5 linked regions of the Homo sapiens genome follow. The protein of the gene in region 4 interacts with the protein of the main gene of each other region in a pairwise test. Each region holds a gene or a part of one and is shown on either strand. Other genes may lie near its edges.

Region 1 (3,604 bases), on a different chromosome or scaffold from region 4:
TTTATTTTATTTTTGTAAGACAGAGTCTCACTCTGTCACCCAGGCTGGAGTGCCGTGTTGCTCACTGCAACTTCCACCTCCCGAGTTCAAGCTATTCTCATGCCTCAGCCTCCCGAGTTCAAGCTATTCTCATGCCTCAGCCTCCTGAGTAGCTGGAATTACGGGTGTACGCCACCATACCTGACTAATTTTTGTATTTTTAGTAAAGATGGGGTTTCGCCATGTTAGGCTAGGCTAGTCTCAAAATCCTGACCTCAAGTGATCCATCCGTCTCAGCTTCCCAAAGCGCTGGAATTACAGGTGTGAGCCACTGTGGCTGGCCTGTTGGTTCATTTTTGAAAGGTTGTTTGGGTGGTCACTTACCTCTATATGCTGGAAAGTCCATTGCAAGACTCTAAAGCAAGTCCCTGAGAAAGGATTTCTTGAAACATGTTTGCTTAACAAAATGAATCTGAATCGCCTGGTGTATGTTGTTTTGTTTTGTTTTGTTTTTTGAGATGGAGTCGCACTCTCTTGCCTAGGCTGAAGTGCAATGGCGCCATGTCAGCTCACTGCAACCTCCACCTCCTGGGTTCAAGTGATTCTTCTGCCTCAGCCTCCCGAGTAGCTGAGATTACAGGCGCCCGCCAATAGGCCTAGCTAATTTTTGTATTTTTAGTAGAGACAGGGTTTCTCCATGTTGGTCAGGCTGGTCTCGAACTCCCGACCTCAGGTGATCCGCCTGCCTTGGCCTCCCAAAATGCTGGGAACACAGGCGTGAGCCACCGTGCCCGGCCCTAAAAAACGTGTTTATATTTATTCAATTGTAAATATTATCATGAGGCTCAGATACCTTAGATTTTAGTAGTTCATTAGTCCTGGTCAATTCAATAAGTTGTTTTTCCAGTGTAGCATTATTTGCAGAGAGAGATGTTTTTTCCCTTAGTGCAGCATTTAGCCTTGCTTCCATCTTTTCCAACTCAGTTTCCAGATCCTGGATCCGCCTGTCCTGGGCACCACGTTCCTGTAGAAGAACACGAATCTGGACAAAAACAAGGTGATAATAAATGATTCACTGATAGAATGCCAACATAAGGAGATGCTACCAATAATCACCCCTAAAGTTTCTGGAAAAATCTCTGATTTTGACATTATGCTTGTAGATATTCTAATGTTACTAGCTATTTGAATAATCATATTTACCTATGATACATCTTAAAAGTCTTAATGCATTTTAAGAACATAAGAACTTTAGTTGCCATAAGTTCCAAGTACAATTAAGCTATCTATTCACTTTTTTTTTTTTTTTTTTGAGATGGAGTCTTGCTCTGTGCTCTGTTGCCCAGGCTGGAGTGCAGTGGCACGATCTCGGCTCACTGCAAGCTCCGCCTCCTGGGTTCAAGCGATTCTCCTGCCTCAGCCTCCCGAATAGCTGGGACTACCAGCACGGGCCACCACACCCGGCTAATTTTTTGTATTTTTAATAGAGACGGGGTTTCACCATATTAGCCAGGATGGTCTCGATCTCCTGACCTCGTGATCCACCCGCCTCAGCCTCCCAAAGTGCTAGGATTACAGGTGTAAGCCACCACACCCGGCCGCTATTTATTCACTTTTAAGGTATTTCCACCTATAATAGTTATTTTCTCTAGCTTCAATTACACAAATTCAAATTAGCTTAAAATGCTAAATGTTTTTTATTTCAAGAAGGCAGAGCTGGGCTTCTGAGGAGAATGTACTAGGCATTGGCAAGCCATCATTCTTGCTGCTATTACCAGATTAAAAAAACAAAAAACAAAAAAAAACCCAAACCAATATTTGTCAACAGAAAATGTGGAAGCCAAAAGACAATGAAATGATATTTTTAATATAATGGGGGGGAACCTGCCACCCTAAAATTCTATACCCAATGAAGTCACTGGTGTAAATTATTAGTTCTAATCCTGGCTCTACCACTCACTTACCAGCTATCTCACTGAGACTCAGTGATTATTCCTGTAAGTATCAACCCCTACATGTACCCTCAGTAAAATGATAGCTAACATTATTAGAATACATAAAAAAGAATCAGAGCAACTGAGCAGACATTTACAGTTACTCTGACATACTCTTGGTTGAAAGCCAACATTCGACTGTAATCAAATGAAAGATTTTAATATATTGAAAGAATATATCCATGAGGAAAAGAGTTGGTCAGCAATGGAAACAGAAAAAAAAGACTGCAGAGAAGCAAAGTTCACAGTGAGCTGCTTAGCATTGCTAGGAAAGTAAATGGGTTCTTTAGGTTAGTACTGTTCAATAGAAATTTCTGTCATGGTGGAAATGCCCTGTCCAGTATGGTAGCTGCCAATCACATGTGGCTACTGAGCACTTGAAATGTGATTATTGCAACTGAGGAATTGAGTTCTTATTTAATTTAGATCATCACATGTGGTGAGTAGCTACCATATCAAACAGCACAGCTCTATGTTATTTCACCCATGAGGAAGGCCTATACCTATTGTGCAGAGCAATGCATCGAGTTAGCCTAACTTCATCACAGTCTAACCAGCTAGGATTGCATGCTCACTAAGAAATCCTCTAGCTATGTTGTGTTAACATAAGTTAGCATACAGGAAGACTGTGAACGATGGATAGATATAAATATTTGATCCACATATATAATTGTAATCAACTGACATAATGATTTTTCAGTTATCAGTTTTTCATTAAGTGGGCTATCTTTAATCTCGGCGTTGCCAGCATACCACATTAACATAGCCCGGATAGATCTGTGAAATACTGTAAGAACTGTTTTCCTGTAGGCACTGTTCTGGATGGCATGTTTGCCTCACTGCAGGACTCCTCACACTGCAACAGAATCCTTATCTCTTAAATCTGTGTAACTCTCTTTCTATCATGTGTACTTTTCACTAAGTTTAAAGCACTGCTTACCTCTTTCTCTAATATCTTCAAATCTTTATCATTCTTTTGAGATTCCTTCTGTTTAAAAGCCAAAAAAACTTATAAGCAAATTTAGATGTCACAGATATGACAGCCAAATTTGTTTTTCAGTTATCAGAAAAGATGAAGGGATCCAATCAGTTAGTTTCTATTTTAAACATTACACTGTTAAACATTGTGTAGGCCACTCATCTGATAAATAAAATATTCTAAAAATCTCAAGACATTTTAGGTTTAGAAATTTTCAACCCAATAAATCAGGATTTTCCTAATCAGCCCAGTGAAAAGAACAGGTGGAACTTTATGAATAAAGCTACTGACTGCCTCCCTCTAATGTTAAATAGCAACACATCTTGAATATTTAATTATGCTATCTCAGAAAGAATCTTACAAAGAGAAATCGACTTAAACTTTGATACCCGAAGAGGAAAATATACAGATGCAAAGAAATAAAAACTGAAACAGCATAAGCTCTGATTCTAATTTTCTCATTGGCTTTATTCTAAATAAGACATATAATTTTCACACTATATCTTTTTATATCCAACAGACTTTCTGACACAATGGCTAGAAAAAGAATATCTTTTCCATCTAAAAATGGAAGAAAGGCATCAACATCTTGAATGAAATCTGTTTCAGATGTTTCTAAGTGGGGCAGGAGGTGGGGGTGACATCAGTGTCA
Region 2 (3,604 bases), on a different chromosome or scaffold from region 4:
CTCTGATCTAACAACTAACAAAAGACAGATTTCTGCCCAAGAAATTGTTTTTGGTTTGTTTTATTTACCTTAATTGACATAAAGGTGAGTACTCCTGACTATATTTAATTTACATCATTATTAAAGTTGTCTCATGTTTAGTAACATAGAGATAAATTTAATTATAATGTGGTTAATGTTGAACAGTCAGAGACTTAATCACATTTAGACAAGGCATTTGAGACTAGATTTGTCTGTAAACATGTCAGCTTCCATTTGAATTCTCACATAAATTAGTCTTTGTTTTGGGATGGAGATAGTGGAAAAGCCTTTGTTTAAGTAAGATAGATTACTATGACACACATTTCTTTCTCTGTCCTTTGTTTAGGGCAAAACTAAATTTAGCTATGTTTTACAAGCTAAGATCTTTAAGAACGGAATGGGGAAGAGAGCAAAGAGTTTCAGAAAATTAAAACTTAGTTTTAGTTGCATTTTAGGCACAGTTTGTAATTAATTGTTTAATATTGGATTACAGGGTAGATGGGAGGAGAAAGTTGATCTCTGAAGCAGTGAACTTTTTTAAAGTATGTATTTTTAGGGGTAACCTCAATATCACATAACTGTTTTACGAACATGCAGGCCTTAGCAATACAAATTAACCTGGGGTACATCTAAGAAGTCTAAACAGTTGCCTGTGCTAACAGATACAATGTATTCCCACAGAATGCCAATAAAAAGAGAATTCCCTTCAGAAATGTTCAAGAAGAAAGTAGGGGAAGGGAAGCCAGCACACCTGTGGTGTCAGAATAATATTCTGTGCATTTAGGCTGGGTGTGGTGGCTCACGCCTGTAATCCCAGCACTTTGGGAGGCCGAGGCGGGTGGATCACAAGGTCAGGAGTTCGAGGCCAATATGGTGAAACCCTGTTTCTACTAAAAATACAAAAATTAGCTGGGTGTGGTGACATGTGCCTGTAATCCCAGCACTTTGGGAGGCCGAGGCAGGCTGATCACCCGAGGTCAGGAGTTTGAGACCAGCCTGGCCAACATGGTGAAATCCTGTCTTTACTAAGAATACAAAAGTTAGCTGGGTGTGGTGGTGGGTGCCTGTGATCCCAGCTACTTGGGAGGCTGAGGCAGGAGAATCGCTTGAACCCAGGAGGCGGAGGTTGCATTGAGCCAAGACTGTGCCATTGCACTCCAGCCTGGGCAACAAGAATGAAACTCTGTCTCAAAAAGAAACAAAAACAAAAAAACAGAGAAGTGATGTATTTGGGGCAGTACCAGATTAGTAACTAGAAATTCTTTGTCCTTTTCTTCAGTGTCCATTGGTCCTAAAGTCTATATATATATGTGTTTTTCAGTAAAGCATATTCATATCTATGATTAGATCGAGATCATTTTAGAAACGAGTTTCTGGGCCGGGTGTGGTGGGTCACTTAAGGTCAGGAATTTGAGACCAGCCTGGCCAACATGGTGAAACCCCATCTCTACTGAAAATACAAAAATTAGCTGGGCATGGTGGTGAGCACCTCTAACCCCAGCTACTCGGGAGGGTGAGGTGGGAGAATCGCTTGAACCCGGGAGGCAGAGGTTGCAGTGAACAGAGATCGCGCCACTGCACTCCAGCCTGGGTGACAGAGCAAGACTCGGCCTCAAAAAAAGAAAAAAGGAAGCTTCTGGATGCCTTCAATTTCCCTTTCATTTTATTTTTTGAACCTCCCTGCCTCCCTTATTTCCCTTTGTTTTTAACTCTAGACAAATTAAAGGAAACATTCCTATGATAAGTATACTTTTATATAGCACTTCTAAGAAAGTTGTATATTCAGGCTGGGCGCAGTGGCTCACGCCTGTTATCACAGCACTTTGAGAGGCCGAGGCGGACAGATCACCTGAGGTCAGGAGATCGAGACCAGCCTGACCAACATGGAGAAACCCTGTCTCTACTAAAAATACAAAAAAAAAATTAGCTGGGCATGGTGGCGCATGCCTGTAGTCCTAGCTACTCAGGAGGCTGAGGCAGGAGAATCCCTTGAACCTGGGAGGCAGAGGTTGTGGTGAACCAAGATTGTGCCATTGCACTCCAGCCTGGGCAACAAGAGCGAAACTCCATCTCAAAAAAAAAAAAAAAAAAAAAGGAAAGGTGTTTATTTATAGGAGATTTTATTTCGGAGAAAGATCAGATAAATACGTCTTCATTTGCTGCTCTGCTTGGGCTTTTCAGAATCTATTAATATTTTGATACATTTGATTGAGAGTCCACTTGAGGAAAATTTTACATGTTTGGGGGAGAGAGTATTTATGCTTTAACTCTGGACCTTGATAAAGTATTAAGACAATGATTTTATGAAATGTTATTACTTTGGAAGAGCTGGGTTTGATAGTAAGAATGTTCTTATCTGGAGGTGAGCGGCTATTCTGAGTATATGTAGATTTAGAGCACTACACTCAAAGTAGTGGTGCATATCTAGATTGACATGAAGCGTTGTGAAAACAGCATTTTTAAAAACAATAAAGTGCCTTGGATAATTCTCATTTGTTTTCATCAATTGGGAATTTCCCTAACCATTCTCAGAATGGTCCCATGTGTACTACTTTTCTCAAATCACAGAGCAGTATCTAGTGTTTGCAGGATGGGTGCAAAGCAGCATTCTTCTGAGTTTCCATTATGACCATTATGACATAGTTGCTTTAATGTTGTACTTTGCTTTAATGATGTGCTTTAATGTTGTAATGCTTTCCACACTACATACTCAGAAATTAGAATTTAGGAGATAGGATAAACCAAAAAACTACAAATTTGTTGCTTATCCTACTGAGATGCTACCATCCCCTCCAGTGGTTACACTGGTTTTCATTACTAGAAAATTCAGATTTTTATTTTTAATTTTAATATTTATTTATTTATTGTGAGACGGAGTCTCACTCCGTCACCCAGGCTGGAGTGCAGTGGTGCGATCTCTGCTCTCTGCAGCCTCCACCTCCTGGGCTCAAGCAGTTCTCCTGTCTCAGCCTCCAGAGTAGCTGGGATTACAGGTGCACACCACCATGCCTGGCTAATTTTTGTATTTTTAGTAGAGACGCAGTTTCACCATGTTGGCCAGGCTGGTTTTGAACTCCTGACCTCAAATGATCTGCCCGCCTCGACCTCCCAAAGTGCTGGGATTACAGGGGTTAGCCAGTGTGCCCGGCCAAAAATTGAGATCTTTAAAAGCTTTTTTTTCTTTTTTGAAATAGGGAACGCTTCATGAATTTGTGTCATCTTTGCACAGGGGCCATGCTAATCTTCTTTGTATCATTCCAATTTTAGTATATGTGCTGCTGTAGTAAGCACTTAATGGCATCTTAAAGCAATTTTTTGATGGTTCTTATGGAAAAATATGACTTTTATGAAAAATAGAGCGATTTCATCAGCATTATGTTATTACCAAAAGTAAATTAAAATGCACACAGAGAATGCGATACTTTTGATCTTCTCCATGTTTGAGTACAGAATAGTGGAAGAGTGAATGTGTGCCTATGGTTAATTTTGAGGGTTTGTTTTGAAATCTTGTTCCTTAATGTATCTTATTTTTGTTTACCTGCCAATGGATAGAAAATGCTTGTGACCACGTGAATTTTCACCC
Region 3 (3,355 bases), on a different chromosome or scaffold from region 4:
GTCACCTGGGATAGGGCATTCCCCCTTCACCCTTAAACTCTTCACCTATGAGGAAATGAGACTGGATGACATCCAACAGACCTTTTAGAATAAAGAGGTAGATTTTATTTATTTTATACTTCCAAATTCTTTTTGATCATCAGTGAAAATCAGTTAACGTTTCTCCACCCTCTTTCATGTGTGTTTAAAAGTATCTTTTTCACTGAATGTACCTTGTGTTCTATATGCTTCTACTCTCATTATCTGCTGATCTGATCATTTAAAAGCTAATCATGCAAGGCCAGTTTTCAGCATAATTTGGACTATTAGCCCAATATATTAGCAGTTTTGGCATTTGATTCTGAAAGTGGTTGCTGGTTCAGATAATGGCTTCTCACCAGTGTTTTTTTGTTTTTTGTTTTCTTTAAAAAAAAAAACCCTCTGGATGAGATTTCTATGAGAAACTACTTGAACATGAAATCAGCCCACCTGGAGTCTTGTAATCATTCAGTTACTTTTACTTCCCAGGCAAAATGGCAATACCTGTGCTTTGGAAGTTTCTGGAGAAGTATCCTTCAGCTGAGGTAGCAAGAACCGCAGACTGGAGAGATGTGTCAGAACTTCTTAAACCTCTTGGTCTCTACGATCTTCGGGCAAAAACCATTGTCAAGTTCTCAGGTATTTTCCTATACACCCAAAGGAAAAACATAATACATTGTGCTTATTTAAGAGAGCCACACCTTAAACTTTAATGTTCTCAGATACTATATTAATGGAGGTTTTTCAGCTCAAGCACCCAAGGCATTTAAAAAAGTCCACTTTCCCCAAACCACAGTCTCCCACTGACCTAAACAATAAATCTTTGCCCAGCACTGGGTCAGGCATGTGGGCAGAATTAGGGGAAGAAGTCAGTGAAGCAGAAAGCCCAGTTCTTGACCTCAAGGACATGACTTCTGTCTTGTTAGCACAGCACAAAAGAGTGGTTAGGAATTGGCAAATGATATGGGTGCTGCAGGAATTCAGAAGGAAGAGTAATCACAACTGGGGTTGCTGGGAAAGAGCCTTTCCTGTCCCTTTCTGCTGTTCTCTCCATCCTGCCCCATCACCACACATTTTGGGAGGGTGTCTTTAGAAGCTGACCTGATAATGTGGGATGTTGTATTCTTCAGATGAATACCTGACAAAGCAGTGGAAGTATCCAATTGAGCTTCATGGGATTGGTAAATATGGCAACGACTCTTACCGAATTTTTTGTGTCAATGAGTGGAAGCAGGTGAGGCTCACTCCCATCCATAATTCAGCACATTTGGTCTCTGAGGCAAAATAAGTCCACCATTATGGTTAAGACTATTTATTGGATACAAATGCTATTACAGTCACAAACAATTGTGTTCCTGGCTGCGGGGAAGCGGGTGGCATGTGGGTTTTGGGGTTTTTGATCAGTAGGCGCTCCCAAGTCCACAAAGACCAGTCCAGCGGCGTGGCCTCTGACTCATCTCCAGTGGTTTGTCACCTCTGGCCCTGTTCCTGTCATTCCCTATTTGTGTGCTATCTCTAAGCCTGACGTGGTTTTCCTCCTGTCAAAAGTACACCACTACAGGAAAGCAGGAAGGTTTGGGCCTGCAATGTATGCATATTGGGTTTCTCTTAGTGGTCTCAGACTACGTTTGTGGTGACTGGGTCCTGCTTCAGCCCTGTTGAATATGCCCAGCCTGTGGCATGCTGGTGGTCATCCTGGCAGCTGGTGGGTGGCCTGGTATGCTGCCCACTCAGCTTGAGACTCACCCTCATGCATTCAGCCAGTAGGTCTGGCCAAGCCTGAACTGAAGGACCATGGTCCTATCCCAGCTTCATCAGAGCAATCCATTGTGACCTGAGAATCCATTTAACCTCTCGGTCTAGAACCTCCTTCTGGAAAGTGAGGTATTAATACTTGACTCATGTTATCGCCACCCCACATTCTAAGTCATGGTTGAGTAGTAATTTGGACAGTACCTTGTAAATTGTGTGAGATTACCTTAATATAAGGTATAACTTAAAATATTCATGAATCCCAGGAGGTTAAAGGTTATAACTTTTAGGTATGGTATCGTAATGTACTGTCCCCCAGCAAACATTTAAAAAGCCAATTTTAAAAAATGTATTTCTGACTAAGTTACATTAAGGTCTCTGCCTCTGTATCTTATGTTTCTTCCAGGTGCACCCTGAAGACCACAAATTAAATAAATATCATGACTGGCTTTGGGAAAATCATGAAAAATTAAGTCTATCTTAAACTCTGCAGCTTTCAAGCTCATCTGTTATGCATAGCTTTGCACTTCAAAAAAGCTTAATTAAGTACAACCAACCACCTTTCCAGCCATAGAGATTTTAATTAGCCCAACTAGAAGCCTAGTGTGTGTGCTTTCTTAATGTGTGTGCCAATGGTGGATCTTTGCTACTGAATGTGTTTGAACATGTTTTGAGATTTTTTTAAAATAAATTATTATTTGACAACAATCCAAAAAAAATACGGCTTTTCCAATGATGAAATATAATCAGAAGATGAAAAATAGTTCTAAACTATCAATAATACAAAGCAAATTTCTATCAGCCTTGCTAAAGCTAGGGGCCCACTAAATATTTTTATCGGCTAGGCGTGGTGGTGCATGCCTGTAATCTCGGAAGGCTGAGGCAGGAGGATCATTTGAGCTCATGAGGGCCCAGGAGGTCAAGGCTTCAGTGAGCCATGATCATGCCACTGCACTCCAGTCTGGATGACAGAGAGAGACCCTGTCTCAAAAAATATATATTTAAAAAATAAAAATAAAAGCTGACCCCAAAGACAAATAAGATTCCTCTGGCATTGTGTATTGTTGACAGCTCCACACTAGCTCTTAGGAATTGTAGATTCCACCCCAGTATCCATTTGATAACCTAATGTGAATATGGGCCTGCTGCTCCATTTCAGCTCACTCACTCTTTTACCTTGGTCCCTTTGTGAAAACTCATTTCTCATCTTCCATTTGGAGTTTATACCATTTGGCCAGGCACAGTGGCTTACACCTGTAATCCTAGCACTTTGGGAGGCTGAGGCAGGAGGATTGCTTGAGCCCAGGAGTTCAAAACCAGACTGGGCAACATAATGAGACCCCGTCTCTACAAAAAATTTTAAAAATTAATTGGGCATGGTGACATACACTTGTGGTCCCAGCTACTCAGAAGGCTGAGGTGGGAGAATCCCTTGAGCCCAGGAGATTGAGGCTGCAGTGAGCTATGATCACACCACTGCACTTCAGCCTGGATGACACAGCAAGACCCTGTCTTAAAAAAAATAAGTCTTAATGCCATTTTTATTACAAGTATTGTTACAGTTCAAATACCAAAGCATTTACTA
Region 4 (4,299 bases):
AGGAGGCAATCAAATGTCCTTCACAAGTGGAACTGGTAAGTTAAAGAGACTTAGGTTGGGTTTCTCTAAAACCAGGCCACAAGACAAAGATTTGTATTCCAGTGGCTTATTTTGATTTAGGAGATGATTTAAGGAATCACCAGTGCGGGAGTATAACAGTGAACCCAAGACACCTTGAGATCAATAAAAAGGTGCATTGTTGGCAGGCTGCCTGCAAAGAAAGGGAGCATAATCCCAGTAGACAACACCAGGAGGCAGTTTTGTACATGCCTAAGAGTAATCCCACCTTAGCATGTAGAACACAAGGATATTTAGTCTCCAGTTCCCATCATGTGGGCTGAGTGGTGGTCCCAGGTGCTTTAATTTGTAGTCCATCTGCCCAAGCACAGGCCAAAAGAAAGCCTTCCCACAGAGTCCCGAGTTCATGTGGCAGCATGCCAGAGGTATGTACTGGAACAGTAGGTGCTAAAGGCAACAATTACATCATGAAAACTGCACATCTCACTCATATGTGGAATCTAAAAGTAATTTAGCTCATAGAAGTTAAGAGTAGAATAGTTAGAGTAGTAGAAAGTTAAGAGTTGTTACTGGAGAGAAAAGAGGGTATGGAAGCTAGAAAAAAAGCTAGAAGGAAGGATTTTGAATGTTCTCATGACAAAGAGATGATAAATGTTTGAGGTGACAGACATGCTAATTACCATGATTTGATCTTTACACAATGTCTGCATGTATCAGAACATCACACACTACCAAATAAATATATACAATTGTTATGTGTCAAAAAACATTATATACAATGTTTATATTTTATATTAATATTAATGTAAATAAAAATTTACACAAATCTTTTCATTAAATATGGTGTGGATAATTATATTATCTGATGATACCCATGCCACAGGCTAGGAGAAATAAAAATTTACATTAATGTTAATGTCAAAAAAGCAGAAACAAAGCCATATGATACATGTGACACTTATACCACATGCATAGAGTTATTTCAGACACATTGTGTGTTACCTTTGGGTAGAGAAGTGAATGAGAGTGAGGATGAGAGATGAAAAGAGGCAGAAGAAAAAGAGAGGCCTTATAGGAAGTGATGAAAGTGTGCCATAAACTGAGAGTATGACTAAAACCTTTCATCTTCCTCTTCTGCCGCTTCTAAGTTATTGGTTCTGCTGTTCCTTGACCTGTTTCAAGCTCTCACCTTCTATATCACACATGGGAAGTCTGGCATCAGACTTCCAGAGAGCAAGAACTAGGTGAAATACAAGGGCACAGCTCTCCTAGCCTGTGGCATGGGTATCATCAGATAATATAATTATCCACACCATTTTTAACAAAAAGATTTGCGTAAGAGATTCACAGAGGCAACCTGAGGCCCTGCAACTACATTTCCCAGAGATCCCTGAGGTGATCCTAACTAGACTCTGGTGTCAGGGTGATACGGAATTCCAGTGAGATCACTTCCCTTGCAGACTTTGGAAGGGAGAGCACTTTATTACAGACCTTGGAAGCAAGAGGATTGCATTCAGCCTAGTTCCTGGTTGCTGGCCAAAGTAAGTAGAACTTTGTAAGTAATTTGCAGTGTACTTTGAAAGTGGGGTATAAATTAAAAATAAAATCAAGTCCCCCTACTGACTGAATGGATCCCCTCTTGTCCTAGGCGACCCCAGAGAAACCTGGAAAACTAAATTCCAGGCCATAATGGAAAGGGAGGTCAGACACGCCTCATTATACACACTCCCTTTTGGAGTTCAGGCACAACTGACCAGCATTAACATTGAAACAGTGATCATAAGACTGTCAAAATGGACTGTTTGTGGGAATAAGATACCAAATTCCAATCTGACTCTGGTTTAGCATCACATGACAATAGCAGACCCTGAAGGAAATCAATATATTTAATCCCCAAAATATATTTCTTTGACACATATTGAAATGGTCTTGCAAAACCATCTTTTATGGGGAAATTTGCTGGTTTCTGGCTCTGCTCTGATTGAGGAGAGAATAAATGAGAGTCTGACACCTTAAAAATCTGAAAAGAGATATTTACCATCTGTTTTCTCTAAGGCTGCTAGCTGGAGGTTTCATCTACATGACATAAACCATGGTTCCCATAAGCCCTTTTAACTCAAGCATTTAATTGTACTGACCGCAAGTCTTTAGACAAAACTTAACTCTTCAACAAATTGCCAATCACAAAATCTTTGAATCCACCTTTGTCCTGTAAGCTCTCCTACTTCAATATGTCTGATTTTCAGGCAGAGCCAATGTATACCTTATGTGGGGGCCATAGGCTGTTGGCCCCCTAAAGCTTCACTAAAAGTCACTGTCATGTGACAGGTTGATTAATAGGGGAAAGGGAGTACAAATTTATTTAATGTATATACATGGTCTATTAGCCAGGACCCTTTAGAGGGCCAGAACTAATAGGATAGATGTATACATAAAGGGGAGTTTATTAAGGAGTAGTGAGTCACATGATCACAAGGTGACGTCCCACAGTAGGCCGTCTGCAAGCTGAGGAGCAAGGAAGCCAGTCCGAGTCCCAAAACCTCAAAAGTAGGGAAGCCGACAGTGCAGCCTTCAGTCTGTGGTCAAAGGTCCAGGAGTCCAAAGGCTGAAGAACTTGGAGTTTGATGTTTGAGGGCAGGAAGCATCCAGCACAGGAGAAAGATGTAGGCTGGGAGACTAAGCCAGTCTAGTCTTTCCACATTCTTCTGCCTACTTTCATTCTGGCTGTGCTGGCAGCTGATTAGATGGTGCCCACCCGGATTGAGGGTGGGCCTCCCTTTCTCAGTCCACTGATTCAAATGTTAATTTCCTTTGGCAACACCCTCACAGACACACCCAGGAACAATACTTTGAATCCTTCAATCCAATCAAGTTGACACTCAATATTAACCACCACACTTGGGAAACTTGAGAATGAAGACCCAACTTCCCAGTAAGTTACAGAAACTCATGTATTATTCCGAGGCCACAGTAAAGAGTGGAGACTCAAAGCATGGCCAGAAACAGGTAAATTAGTTTTAGTGGCAACACAGGTTAAGAGAGAGAGGAAGGAAGAAGCTCGGCTAGCAAAGGTGGCCTTGTTATGTAGACGAACCTTTTCTCAGAAGCAAAAGATGGTAAATGTTTCTATCCAGATCTTTAAAGGTGTCAGACTCTCAATCGCTCTGGATCCTGGGAAAGGCTTAGAAACAGGAGAGGGTATGGCTGCATTAATGGACATTGTCCACAGACGCAAATTTTCCTCAGTTAAGACAGTTTTGCAATGCCACTTCTGCTTGTTGGCCAGTGGAAACCATTTTTAAATATGTCAAAGAAATATATTTGAGGGTAAAATATTTTGATTTTCTTCAGTCCCCACTTTGAAATTTAAAACAAGTTTCACATACTAAAAGCCAAGGTAATAGCTTTGGGGAGATTTAAGTTAGAGGTGTTTAGATAGAGACAGTCATAGCAGTGGAAAAACACATTTGGGATAAATATAAATGAGCAAATTTAAATATATCATTCCATATTTTCTTTAGGCAGTCCCTTGGTTTTGAGGTGAGATCAGTTCAGTTAAATATCTACGTCCCATTCCAGGAGGTGGGACTGCAAATGGTTTAGGCCTTTAGACGTAATGTAGGCAATCAGATTTCTAGTAGGAGGCATTTCTGTAGAAACAGAAAAAAATAAATAAATAAATGTTACTATCTGGAGTAGTCTATATATCTAGAAAAGCTAGTCTATAGCTTTTTCTCTGAGGCGTCTTCATATTGCAGTGGCAATGTCCCAGATTTCCCTGGAAGTTCAAACCAGGTGTTCCACTGAACTTTCTGAGAAGGCCTCACATCAGCAGATATGCATGAAGGTTGTTTATAAGTTACTGTTATTTTCTCCTGATACCTTCAGTTTGCAAGACTTTAAGAAAACCCCAGTTTTAATTTCTAGTGAATTCAAGTAAGAAAAATGGGAGAAAACGTTGAAAATGTTACTTTGCAGACTTGTAGCCAGAAAAAAATTCAGGATTTGGTCTAACTTGTAAAAAATAATAAAAACTGAAAAAACAATGGGCAAGGCTAGAAGATACTAACAGATACACTATAGTTTTTGAAACATAGTATTTCTGCTTCCAGTTCTTCAATTTTATGAAAGACATAGTTTCATGCACATCCGTGTGAAGAGACCACCAAACAGACTCTGTGTGAGCAACATGGCTGTTTATTTCACCTGGGTGCAGGCGGGCTGAGTCCTAAAAGAGAGTCAGTGAAGGGAGATAAGGGTGGGGCCATTTTATAGGATTTG
Region 5 (3,604 bases), on a different chromosome or scaffold from region 4:
ATTTTTTTCTTATGTAGGATTGAACAGAACAAATTGTTCACACTTTGTGCTTCATCCTTATAATACAGCTTCTGCCTCCTCAGCAAGTGACTAACAGTACATGTCTAAAGACCTTAAAAAGTATCGAAATTATCTTAACCATGGAAATATCCAGCTGCAAATACATGCCAAATTCCTTATCTGTAATTTTTGTAACTGAACAAACAAGCCCCTGTATTACAGCATGAAGAAGTTTTTGAAACTGAAATGTACTGCTCACTTCACAATCATGTTCTGTCTATCCTTGCTATTTAGCTTGGGGAAGGTTATCAAGTTCTGAGGAGAGGAGAAAGGAGAAAAGGAAGGGAGCCAGAAAGAAAGGGTGGGACCAAGAAGCCAAGGAACTTAAGACGAGTTAAGAACAGGTAGAAAGGCCAGGCACGGTGGCTCACGCCTGTAATCCCAGCACTTCGGGAGATCAAGGTGGGCGGATCACCTGAGGTCGGGAGTTTGACACCAGACTGACCAACATGGAGAAACCCCATCTCTACTAAAAATACAAAATTAGCCGGGCGTGGTGGCACATGCCTGTAATCCCAGCTACTGGGGAGGCTGAGGCAGGAGAATCGCTTGAACCCGGGAGGTGGAGGTTGCGGTGAGCGAGATGGCACCATTGCACTCCAGCCTGGGCGACAAGAGCTAAACTCCGTCTCAAAAAGAAAAGAGAATGGGTAGAAAGACAGAATGCTAAAACTGTCAGCAGTCCCCCAGATGGAAGACAGGAGAGAAATAATTTAAAACAACAGAAAGCCTTTTCTTTGTGGTCCAGAGAGAGGAAGAGGAGATCTGGATAAAACTGCTGAAAAATTTGGGGGCGGGGGTGAGGTGAAGAACCTAACAGTAAGTCTTGGAAGATGAAATACAACTCTGTTGATTACTGAAGGATGAACCAAATAACAGGACTGGGCCCACACAATAAAGAAGAAAAGAGGGCGGCTGGTTGTGGAGTTAAAGCAGAGAGAAGAAAAAGAAACAGCTACAGAAATTCCCCAAGGTGCAGGGTACAGGGCTGGGGAAGGTGCGAATGTTTGGGAATAAAAACAAACTTTGAAAAACAACAAAAAACAAGTCTTTTCAAAGCCTGGCCTCAGACTTAGGGTAAGTTCTCCCTGAGAGATTTAAAGGTAAATAAAGAAGAAGCAAGTTAAGACTGAAAGCTTTGACTGATCTAACAGGAACATGTGGCATTATGGTTGTAATGCCACAAATTTAGTATTTAGTATTTTGTGAAGTATTCACAAAGAAATGAACAGGATGCTGCATAATTTTTTACATTGTTTTCCAGGGGCATGTTGATGAGAAATGCTACTCCCTCCATTTTGTCCCCAGCATGTGTATGATGAATAAGAAGAGGTGGGGGCGGGGGAGAGAGATTCTTCCCATCCACCAAATGCTACCCTGATTACCCACGTCAGTCCTAACTCCTGCATTGCCCCAGGTGCCAGTCAGCAAGGCCTACGCCATTTGCTTTGCCATCTCCGCATTGTCCACTCACTTGCTCTGCCCTTCTGTCCATTTCACTGAGCTGGAGCTCCCAGCAGCAACTCTAGAAAAGAAGAAGAGGTGGGGAGTGGGGAATGGAGCATGCATGGATCTGGCAAGCCCCCCAGATCCCAGAATCCAGTGAAAAGCCCCTCAATACACAGAGACATCAAGCTAGCTATCAAGAGTGCTGAACTAAGTCCCCAGTCCCACTGGGGCCAATGGTGGGGTGGAAGGCACCACCGGAGGCTGCAAAGAGCTTGGGCTTTGGAATCAGATCTGGACTTGGCATCCCAGCTCTAGCACTTAGTAGGATGTGAACCTGGGAAGTAACTTAACCCTCTGAGCTTGGTTTACTTATCTGTAAACCAAGCAGTACTTAGCTCTCATGAGAGTGTTGGGAAGATAAGATGAGGTAACCTGGAAGGACACCTGACACGCTGCAGGCACTTCATGAGTGTTCTATGCTACTGCCCATCTCTTCACACTTGGTAGAAAATGAAAAGTGAGCTCTTTCAATGGTGAAAGCAAGTCCCACCTGCCTTCTTTTTTTTATTTTTTCATTTTTAGGTGCAAAGAGTAGCTCCTTCTGATGTTTCCTGGCTGTATTCTCCCTATTATGGTTGTATTATCAAGTATGGAAAGAAAAACCCTGTTGGTGCAATCAGGTATGGGCGTATCTGACTGTGAATTGCCCAGATCAGCATCACACAAATACAAATTTGGATCCCGGACTTTGCACACCCAAAGCACTTCTTGATAAGATAGTGGAATGGTTAACAACTGTGATATCATAGTAAAACACAATTATTAAATGAGGTTGAATAGCCTTTGAAGAATTATAAAACATTCAACAAGACCATAATAAGTGTCCTCAATATTCCTTGTTCCAGATAGAAACAACCCACATTTATGTTTTTGAAAATTTAATACTGAACACAACTCACCAACTAGGGGAAGGAGGAAAGCGTTCTAATGTCACAGAGAGCTTTGCCCTTTCTTCTAAAACTGTACTTTCTTCATAAGTTCTAAGCACCTTTGAAATGGTTCAAACAGGTATAAGTTACTGTGGAAAGGCAATGGAATAGAGAAAACCTTACCCCTTTAAGGTGGCTCCTAAGTTCATCTGATTCCAGGTCATGCATTCAAGCTGGGATGTCATTTGGTATAAATTGTCACTGTTAGAAAAACATCTAGAGTTAGAAACACATAACCACAAAATAATACACAACTGTTTCTTCAAAAGCAATGGAGTTTTAACTTTTCTTGAAAGTGCAAGCCTCCACATTTTCCAGAATGACAGAATATGCAAATCTGAATTATTTTCATTTCATCCCACTGATCTCTGCACAGTTATACACTTCATACACAGCAGAAGGGATGTGAGAGTAACTCAGAAGCATTTTTTAAAACCTTTGTATAGCAACTATTGAAGTTTCTAAAGAAGTATTAAACCTTTGAGGGGAAAAGGCTAAGGGGAGTGAAACTTTGAAAGGCAACACAGGCTGGATAACTCAACATTAAAGTTAAAAGCCTGGAGCTGAAAGTAAAGACAGCAGATTAATTATTCGTGAAAAGGCCATTAAGTTGTTTTAATCAAAAGGATAAGTATCATGTGGATTATGAGGGTCTGAAAAGTCAGAGTGATGGGTGATAAATGGTCTAAAAAGCAAGGATGTGACAAGCAGAAGAAAGACGATGATAAACTCTATGCACAGCGGAAGGAATCATTTTCTATATGTTTTATAATCCTGGTACAAGTCAAATTAAAAAAAAAAAAAAAGAGCCCAGTTCTATAAGACTCTATGAGGGAAATGGCTTATCATTTACATTAAGACTCCAAAGAAGTCTTACACCGCTATGTAAACCAACAAAAAGCTGTTCTGTCCCCTCTGTATTTATCTCATTCCTAGAAAATTAGCACATGAATCAATTGCCAGAAATCTCCTAAATTACCAAGCTCCATCAGGAATAAATTTATGCCTGAACTGAAATGGTTAATTATGAAATTTGAGACCCAAGAGACCAAGAGTTTTTCTGGGACCTCTTGGTCTAAACACTTTACAGAAGAAAAATTTCACTC

What was found.
Region 1: the proteins of NAT2 (region 4) and HMMR interact in a two-hybrid assay, tested with the Homo sapiens proteins (one large-scale study listed by BioGRID and IntAct).
Region 2: the proteins of NAT2 (region 4) and PPM1D interact in a two-hybrid assay, tested with the Homo sapiens proteins (one large-scale study listed by BioGRID and IntAct).
Region 3: the proteins of NAT2 (region 4) and MBD4 interact in binary tests that used the Homo sapiens proteins (3 or more experiments, as listed by UniProt).
Region 5: the proteins of NAT2 (region 4) and WT1 interact in a two-hybrid assay, tested with the Homo sapiens proteins (one large-scale study listed by BioGRID and IntAct).

The regions. Positions count from the first base shown.
Region 1 is NC_000005.10:163,467,058-163,470,661, reverse strand, and holds part of HMMR (hyaluronan mediated motility receptor), read right to left. Parts: intron 2,962-3,604; coding exon 2,914-2,961; intron 1,022-2,913; coding exon 833-1,021; intron 1-832. UniProt on the Homo sapiens protein: Receptor for hyaluronic acid (HA). Involved in cell motility. When hyaluronan binds to HMMR, the phosphorylation of a number of proteins, including PTK2/FAK1 occurs.
Region 2 is NC_000017.11:60,659,126-60,662,729, forward strand, and holds part of PPM1D (protein phosphatase 1D), read left to right. Parts: intron 1-514; exon of another isoform or gene 515-803; intron 804-3,604. UniProt on the Homo sapiens protein: Involved in the negative regulation of p53 expression. Required for the relief of p53-dependent checkpoint mediated cell cycle arrest.
Region 3 is NC_000003.12:129,430,400-129,433,754, reverse strand, and holds the end of MBD4 (methyl-CpG-binding domain protein 4), read left to right. Parts: intron 1-507; coding exon 508-657; intron 658-1,148; coding exon 1,149-1,252; coding exon of another isoform or gene 1,253-1,306; exon of another isoform or gene 1,307-1,579; intron 1,580-2,176; coding exon 2,177-2,254; 3' UTR 2,255-2,808; downstream 2,809-3,355. UniProt on the Homo sapiens protein: Mismatch-specific DNA N-glycosylase involved in DNA repair. Has thymine glycosylase activity and is specific for G:T mismatches within methylated and unmethylated CpG sites. Can also remove uracil or 5-fluorouracil in G:U mismatches. Has no lyase activity.
Region 4 is NC_000008.11:18,389,787-18,394,085, forward strand, and holds the start of NAT2 (arylamine N-acetyltransferase 2), read left to right. Parts: upstream 1-1,495; 5' UTR 1,496-1,559; intron 1,560-4,299. UniProt on the Homo sapiens protein: Catalyzes the N- or O-acetylation of various arylamine and heterocyclic amine substrates. Participates in the detoxification of a plethora of hydrazine and arylamine drugs, and is able to bioactivate several known carcinogens.
Region 5 is NC_000011.10:32,414,956-32,418,559, forward strand, and holds part of WT1 (Wilms tumor protein), read right to left. Parts: intron 2,700-3,604; coding exon 2,622-2,699; exon of another isoform or gene 2,469-2,621; intron 1,586-2,468; coding exon 1,535-1,585; intron 1-1,534. UniProt on the Homo sapiens protein: Transcription factor that plays an important role in cellular development and cell survival. Recognizes and binds to the DNA sequence 5'-GCG(T/G)GGGCG-3'. Regulates the expression of numerous target genes, including EPO.